Homo sapiens: one gene and its partner. The protein of the gene in region 1 interacts with the protein of each later gene in a biochemical or structural test. Each region holds a gene or a part of one and is shown on either strand. Other genes may lie near its edges.

The links.
Region 2: the proteins of RYR3 (region 1) and HNF1A form a complex in vitro, tested with the Homo sapiens proteins (one large-scale study listed by BioGRID).

What each region holds. Positions count from the first base shown.
Region 1 is NC_000015.10:33,317,466-33,321,290, reverse strand, and holds part of RYR3 (ryanodine receptor 3), read right to left. Parts: intron 1-3,825. UniProt on the Homo sapiens protein: Cytosolic calcium-activated calcium channel that mediates the release of Ca(2+) from the sarcoplasmic reticulum into the cytoplasm in muscle and thereby plays a role in triggering muscle contraction. May regulate Ca(2+) release by other calcium channels.
Region 2 is NC_000012.12:120,992,021-120,995,845, forward strand, and holds part of HNF1A (hepatocyte nuclear factor 1-alpha), read left to right. Parts: intron 1-1,499; coding exon 1,500-1,686; intron 1,687-2,143; coding exon 2,144-2,385; intron 2,386-3,825. UniProt on the Homo sapiens protein: Transcriptional activator that regulates the tissue specific expression of multiple genes, especially in pancreatic islet cells and in liver. Binds to the inverted palindrome 5'-GTTAATNATTAAC-3'.

The DNA of each region.
Region 1 (3,825 bases):
TTGGATATGAAAAGCCAGATCCTTACAGCAGGATGACCTTGTGTTATTAGAAATACAGTAAATTCCCAGAGAGGTTAATTTCTACACTTAAGACATAAGTTGTAAAAAATGTCTCCCCAAAGCAAAGATGATGAATTTTTGTGTAGCTGTGGATTCTCCAAATCATGTTGCCCATCTATTGACGTGAGGAATTTAAAATTGCCCAGGGAGAAGTCAATCAGCATTTGCATCAAGAGGCTTTGCAAAGTAGACGCTCAGAGAACTGACCTCCCAATCTGTACTCCCAAGGCCATGAACATTGCAGGCTCATTTCCATTCACAAAGCCTGCTCATATTTAGAGTGAAGCAGAATGCCAGGAATCAAGACTATGGAATAATCCCAGGGGATTGTCCCTTTGTACTTTCCAATAATAAAATGACTGTGCAATGACATTTGGAATAGCTAGTGTGACTAATGTCAATGTTTACACTGTTTTGTTGAGACAATAATAAATAATATTTATTGAGGATTTACTATATGTTGAGCACTGTTCCAAGTACCTCACATGGATGAACTCATTTAATCCTTGCAACAATCCTCTCAGATAGGCACTATTATGACCCTCATTTAACATGAGAAAACAAGAACAGAAGTAAGGAAACTTCCCCAAGGTCATACCTTTCAACAGGAAAATTTTTGTACCATAGAAACATGGAAAAGTTAAATTAATTGTTATAAAGTCATCTGAAGTGACTGATATCCTTGCTACCTCAAAGTAAGTCTGAGCTCCCTCTTGACCCTGAGCTGTCAAAAACAACAAACATTAAGATGTCTTTTTCATCTATGTAACTTCCAGTAACTTGTTTAAGGCTGGGTGGAGAGTAATTGGTCAATACATGTTGAATGCACACCCTGCTTTCTTTAGATTTCATGATGTCTACATCCATATGATGATTTTAAAGGGTGTTTTAAAGACTAGCAAGATCTGAATTCATTTTGATGATAAAGCCTATCATTTATTAAGCCCATTAATCTGTCTGCCTGCCAATCTCTCTTTTATACCCTGTGATAAATGATACACTGTCTTTAAGGTTGACATTTTTATCCAAGGACCATGATGTGTATTGTGAGCCTGATCCTATCATGAAAATATTCATGCATTCTAGGGAGTGCTTTCATTCAAACAGATTTGGAGTGCTTATTTGCAGCTGCACAATGGTAGGCAGCTCAGAATCTTGCTGCAGATGTGTTTTGCTTGACTGGCAGTGTTGAGAATTTTTTTATTTGAACGTACAGATCAGGCCCGCCTCTATTTGCAAATAAAGCCTGATTTACACATTTAGCTACCTGCTTGACCCCAAAGTGTTTAGATTTGTGAACTTTCCAATCTGTAGGTACCTGAGAACTTGGCGTAAACCAAATTTAAGACCCCTGTGTTCCTGGAGTTCCTAATGTATGGCTCATACTTTAGGCTGACGGAAACATTTTCAGGGAATAGGGCAACTATTATTCCAAGCTACTCTCTCCAGATTTACATATCTAGTTCTCCTGGAGGAAATGTGGAGTTTCTTCAGGACATCTCTGAGATGTAATCATTAATTATTACCATGCCTTTACAAATGGTTGAACTAGGACCTGGGAAGGGCAGGCAATCTCACAGGCATCTGGCAATAGAAATGCTGCCAAATATAGCAAACGCTTTACCTCTGACTTTACCCATCATTTGACTAGTATGTTCTTTGCTATATTTTTCTCCTAAAATGCCTCTTGCAAAGAGATGAGATCTGTTCAAGACCTCACTATAGTTTATTCTTGAACTGTTCTCTTCTAGCCAGCCTGGACAGAAGAGAGGATTACTTGGAGGAAAACCACTGTCCTAAATTGGAACAATAGCCAAGTGTCCTGGGTGACTGAGAAGGGACTTAGGAGGGGCTTATGCTACTCCAAGACCAGCTGTCCTATTTTGATCTGATCTCTTGGATTCGGCTTCTGGTCGATATGATGTGGTAGCCAACGGGATCTCTCCTTCTGCCCCGGTATTATTTACAGTCTGGATCTGGTCCATGGTATAGAGCAACACGATTCAAATCAATACTTCTCTTCTCACACTGTGGACATTTATGTGCCATTGATGGAGAACTTTCCATTCCTTCCTGTAGTCCCGCTGACTAGCTCTCTCTGCCCAGCCCCATTAGAGAACTCAACTGTGAAATTTTCAGAGTTGATGCCAGTACCTGTCACTGGTCGGGTGCAATGCCTTTACCTTCCAGTAAGAGCTTTTTCTATTTGCTCTGTTAGGGGATAAGCAGCTCCCCTTAGCACTTTCCCTTTTTTGCTATAGGAATTGCTTTGAAATGGTTTCAGGGGCTCTGGAGCATTTGCTTGGGATTAGTATGAGTGACGTGTTAATGAATACAATAACTGATAATGAGGTTTTGTCTCTCAAACACTTTTCTACTTCAGGAAGGAGGCACCTTAGTTCTCGTTTTGATGTAGAGTCACCTTATCTTACTGTTTTCTCTGATTATGAATTATTTAAAACAAAGTATGTATTAGCACCAGTCTTGATGGTGAATAATGCTCTTCTGAATGCCTGAAGGTTGGCCACTTTCTCCCAGGTAACTCAAGCCTTCTTCTCCTCTGCTCAAAGGTCTAAATAAAGATGGAGTCTGAACCGCCATCTCCAGAACCTAGATTCCTGTGCTTTGATGTATATTTCCTACTCAAGGTTCCCCAAGCACCAATGCGGTGCCCTACTCAGGCTTGCCCCTCTCAGCAATGCCCTCATGTGCTCTCACCTTTCTCCAACCCAATTCCTGTTCCTTCAGTAATAGGCTCTGCTCAGCTGTTAATGATGTTAATCATCAGTGGTACCTGCTGAGCTAACAACTTTGCATTTCAGCATTTTAATAGGGGGAATTTCTTGAGACAGTGCTTTATCCCAAAGACAGACCAAGGAGAAAGACATCCTTCTGGGTATCTGCAAGGGTCACAGTGACACTGACACCAACCCAGACTTTCATCTCTACACTTTTATAACAGGTGTGCTGCCTTGCTCATAATACTGGCTGGTTCCTATAGCATAAAACCACTTACAAACTCAACTCAGTAGAAAAACTGTTGATGGCCTGTACAATTCTGCACAGGCAGCAGCAGCTCTGTCTCCAGAGCTCTCTCTGCCTCCTTTGCACTCTGAAATAAGCAGCAGCAAGCAGCTGTCACCCCAGAGGGAAGAGCTCATGTTGAGTGTAATTTCTGAATCTCTTTGTAATCTGATTTTAGGATAGAGTGTTTGCTTTCCTTCTTCTTGGGCATTGAATCCAATAATAGTAAGATTCCTCAAGTATTGACAAGACTGCACAGGAGCAGAGAGACCTGAAATCAATGAGGAGTTCACTGTATAGGGAGGTGGAAGGTGAAAAAAGAAGGCCCTGGTGTCTCCATGCCTCCTCCTTGTAAAGCTATGTCCCACCTCAAAGGACAATAGCCCAGAGTATGACTGTAGAGTCAGCAATGTACTCTAAGCCAGAGGAGGGGAAAAGTGCATGTGAGGAGAGGAGGTATAGCTCTTTTATTCTGGAATACTGCATCATCAGTCTCAGAGATGATCTGAACTTTGTTTTCTAACAACCGGGAATCAGAAATGACATAAACAGAAAAAAAATAATCTTGGCATCTCAAGAGGCTCATCCCTGTAGCAGGATCAGGGCTGAGGTGCCAGCACTTTTTCTTCCCTCTCTCTGAATTGAAGAGGTGCTATGATGGCAAAATTCACTGAACCAAAGGAAACTGCAGTGACTGGAAATGTCTTTGTCCCTAAAACACCCCCCCTGACTTCCAAACAA
Region 2 (3,825 bases), on another chromosome or scaffold:
ATTGGAGAATTTGAGATGCAGAGTCAATATATGACTGTAGTATTAGGACTCTTTCAGTAACAGGGGACAGAACCCCAACTCAAATGGATTTAAACAGAAAAGGGAATGAATTGACTGAAGCAATGTGAGGAGTCCAGGGCTGCTTCAGGCATGGCTAGATCAAGGGGCTCAAATGAGGTTCACACAGCATTTCTTGACTCTTTTCTTTTTTGTTGGCTTCATTCTCAGACAGGCTCTCCTCATATAGGCAAAGATGGGTTCTGGAAGCCCTGGGCTGCCATCCTACCAGCTTAGCAACCTTGGAAGGAAAAGAGCTCTTCTTTTCAGCTACTTTCAGTTGAATGACTCTTTTTATACTTGATAATGTAAACTTTTATTTATTTTATTTTTTGAGATGAGGTCTTGCCATGTTGCCCAGGCTAGTTTTGAACTTCCGGGCTCAAGTGATCCCTGCCTCAGCCTCTTAAGTAGCTGGAATGGCAGGCACACATCACTGTGTCTGCTATAACAGAAACTTTTAAATGAAGTCTAACATAAAAAGTGCCCAAATCCAAAGCATACAGTTCAATGAATTTTCACAAAGTGAACACACCAATACAGATAAAAAATAGAATATTACCAGCTCCCAGCCTGGTGTGGTTGTACCCACCTGTAATCCCAGCACATTTGGGAGGCAAAAGTGGGAGGATCACTTGAGCCTAAGAGTTCAAGACCAGCCTGGGCAACAGAAGGAGACCCCATCTCTCCAAAAAATACGAATAAATGAGCCAGGTGTGGTGCAGCAGGTGTGTAGTCCTAGCCACTTATGCCCGCTGCTGTTTCTTGGCACTGAGATGGTGAGGGCCCTGCTGCTGCTGCTGCGCCCCTGATTCAGAATCTACCTTCCTCTCTTCTCATAAAGTGCTGTCCTAGCACTTGTGTGTCCCAGTCCTTTGGTGGCCTGCTCAGGGATAAGCTGGTAGACCAGTTTCCAGTAAAGTGGTACCAGCTGATGAAGGCTGGCTGGGTCTCTTCCTCTAGCTAACATTTGCATTTTAAGCCTGATTTTCAAGTCTGGAAAGCTGAATATAATTCTGAATACACTGAGGACATATGGCTCAAATTTTTGCTCTACTGCGTGACTCTGGAAAAATATGTAAGCTCTCTGAGCCTCAGCTTCCTCATCTGTACAATGGGGATAGTAAATGTGCCAAATCAGAACAAATGCTAATGCTTACCTGCAGTCTTGTACTGAGAAGGATGGTGAGATCATATCTTGGGTTGGTAGGAAAGCATTCAGGGATTGATTAGTGATGTTTGCCTTGAACACAGGTTAAGAAAGTGATGGCATGTGTGCTGTGTGTTTGTCATCAGTAGATTAGATGATTTCTAAGTTCTAGCTGTAAGCTCCTCTGGTTCAGCGCCATGGCAATGAGAAAGAATCAAGGGCAAGGTCAGGGGAATGGACGTGGGAAGGTGAGAGTGGCCAGTACCCCACTCACGGCTTTCTGTGCCTGCAGAGTTCACCCATGCAGGGCAGGGAGGGCTGATTGAAGAGCCCACAGGTGATGAGCTACCAACCAAGAAGGGGCGGAGGAACCGTTTCAAGTGGGGCCCAGCATCCCAGCAGATCCTGTTCCAGGCCTATGAGAGGCAGAAGAACCCTAGCAAGGAGGAGCGAGAGACGCTAGTGGAGGAGTGCAATAGGTACAACGGCGGGCGGGAAACAGTGCTGGTTTGGTCTGGGCTGCGGCAAGGCCAGGGAAGGGGAAGGTGACTCTAGGTCCTGTAAAAGGCTGTCCAGTTGCCGAGAACTCCTGATATTGGCTTAGCCTGGCCCAGAAAATTGAGAATACTTGAACCTAAGCCCATTCCTCGCAGCCCCCCTGCACCCTGGACACCAAGCAACCCCTTCCATGGATGCTCACCCAATTCGATTCTCTCTACAATCCTATGGCTCTTTTGCTCACTTTATGAATGGAGAGACTGAGGTCAGACAGACTGTCAATTGCCCAAGGTCACACAGCAGACCTGGCATTGGAACCCAGATCTGCCAGCCTCAAACCCTCCGGCAGAGCTCAGCTTCTCAGAACCCTCCCCTTCATGCCCAGGACAGGGTTCCTCTGAGCCTGGCCTGGAGGCTCATGGGTGGCTATTTCTGCAGGGCGGAATGCATCCAGAGAGGGGTGTCCCCATCACAGGCACAGGGGCTGGGCTCCAACCTCGTCACGGAGGTGCGTGTCTACAACTGGTTTGCCAACCGGCGCAAAGAAGAAGCCTTCCGGCACAAGCTGGCCATGGACACGTACAGCGGGCCCCCCCCAGGGCCAGGCCCGGGACCTGCGCTGCCCGCTCACAGCTCCCCTGGCCTGCCTCCACCTGCCCTCTCCCCCAGTAAGGTCCACGGTAAGTGGTATGTGGGGACAAGGGACACGTGGGAAGGTGGGAGGGTTGGGGAGGACTGTCCCAGTGACAGCAGTCACCTAAACCTCTTTGCACTTCAGTTTGGTTCCATTCCATTCATGCCACTCCTTATCACTCTACTTCACTCTGTTCATTCATCCATTCCACTCTATCTCATTCCATTCACTCTACTCCTTTCCACTCTATTCACTCCATCCACCACAATTAACCCCATTCCATCCACTCCATCCACTACCTTCGACTCCACTCCATCCACTCTACTCCATTCACTCCACTCAACTCCACTCCATCCACTCCACTCCGTCCAACTTCATCCCATCCACTACATTCAACTCCACTCCATCCACTCTACTCCATCTACTACCTTCAACTCTACCCCATCCATCCACTCCACTCCATCCATTCCATCCAACTTCATCCCATCTACTACATTCAACTCTACTCCATCCACTCCACTCCATCCATTGCATCCAACTTCATCCCATCTACTACATTCAACTCCACTCCATCCACTCCACTCCATCCATTCCCTCCAACTTCATCCCATCCAGTACATTCAACTCCACTCCATCCACTGTACTCCATCTACTACATTCAACTCTACTCCATCCACTCCCCTCCATCCATTCCATCCAACTTCATCCCATCTACTACATTCAACTCCACTCCATTCATTCCACTCCATCCATTCCATCCAACTTCATCCCATCCACTACATTCAACTCCACTCCATCCACTCCATACCTGGCTCCATCCACTCCACTCCATCTACTACATTCAACTCTACTCCATCCACTCCATACTCTATTCCATCCACTTACTCCATCCACTCCATTCAGCTCCACTCCATCCACTCCACTCACTCAACTCCATCTACTCCACTCCCTCTACTTCATTCAACTCTGCTCCATCCACTCCACTCCACCCATTCCATCCACTGCACTCCAACCAGCTCCATTAGACTCCACTCCATCCACTCTACCCACTCTTCTCTCCACTCCTCTCCACTACATACCATTTTATTCTATCTGTCCCATCCACTCAACTCCATTCACTCCACATGACTCCACATTTCATCCATTCCACTCTACTTCATCCACTCACTCCACTCTATACCATTCCACTCCACTCTATTCACATACTCCACCATTCCAGTCTACTCCATTCACTCCACTCCAACCCACTCACTCCACTCCATACCATTCCACTCCACTGTGTTCACACAACTCCATCCATTCCACTCTAGCCACTCCATTCATTCCACTCCACGCCACACTATTCCTCACCATTCCATCCACTCCACCCTATACCATTCCACTCCACTCTATTCCTCCCCACCCGTCCTCTCCACCCTTTACCACTCCACTCGACTGTACCCATTCCACTTGATCCCACTCATTCCACTCAATTCCATCTACTCTA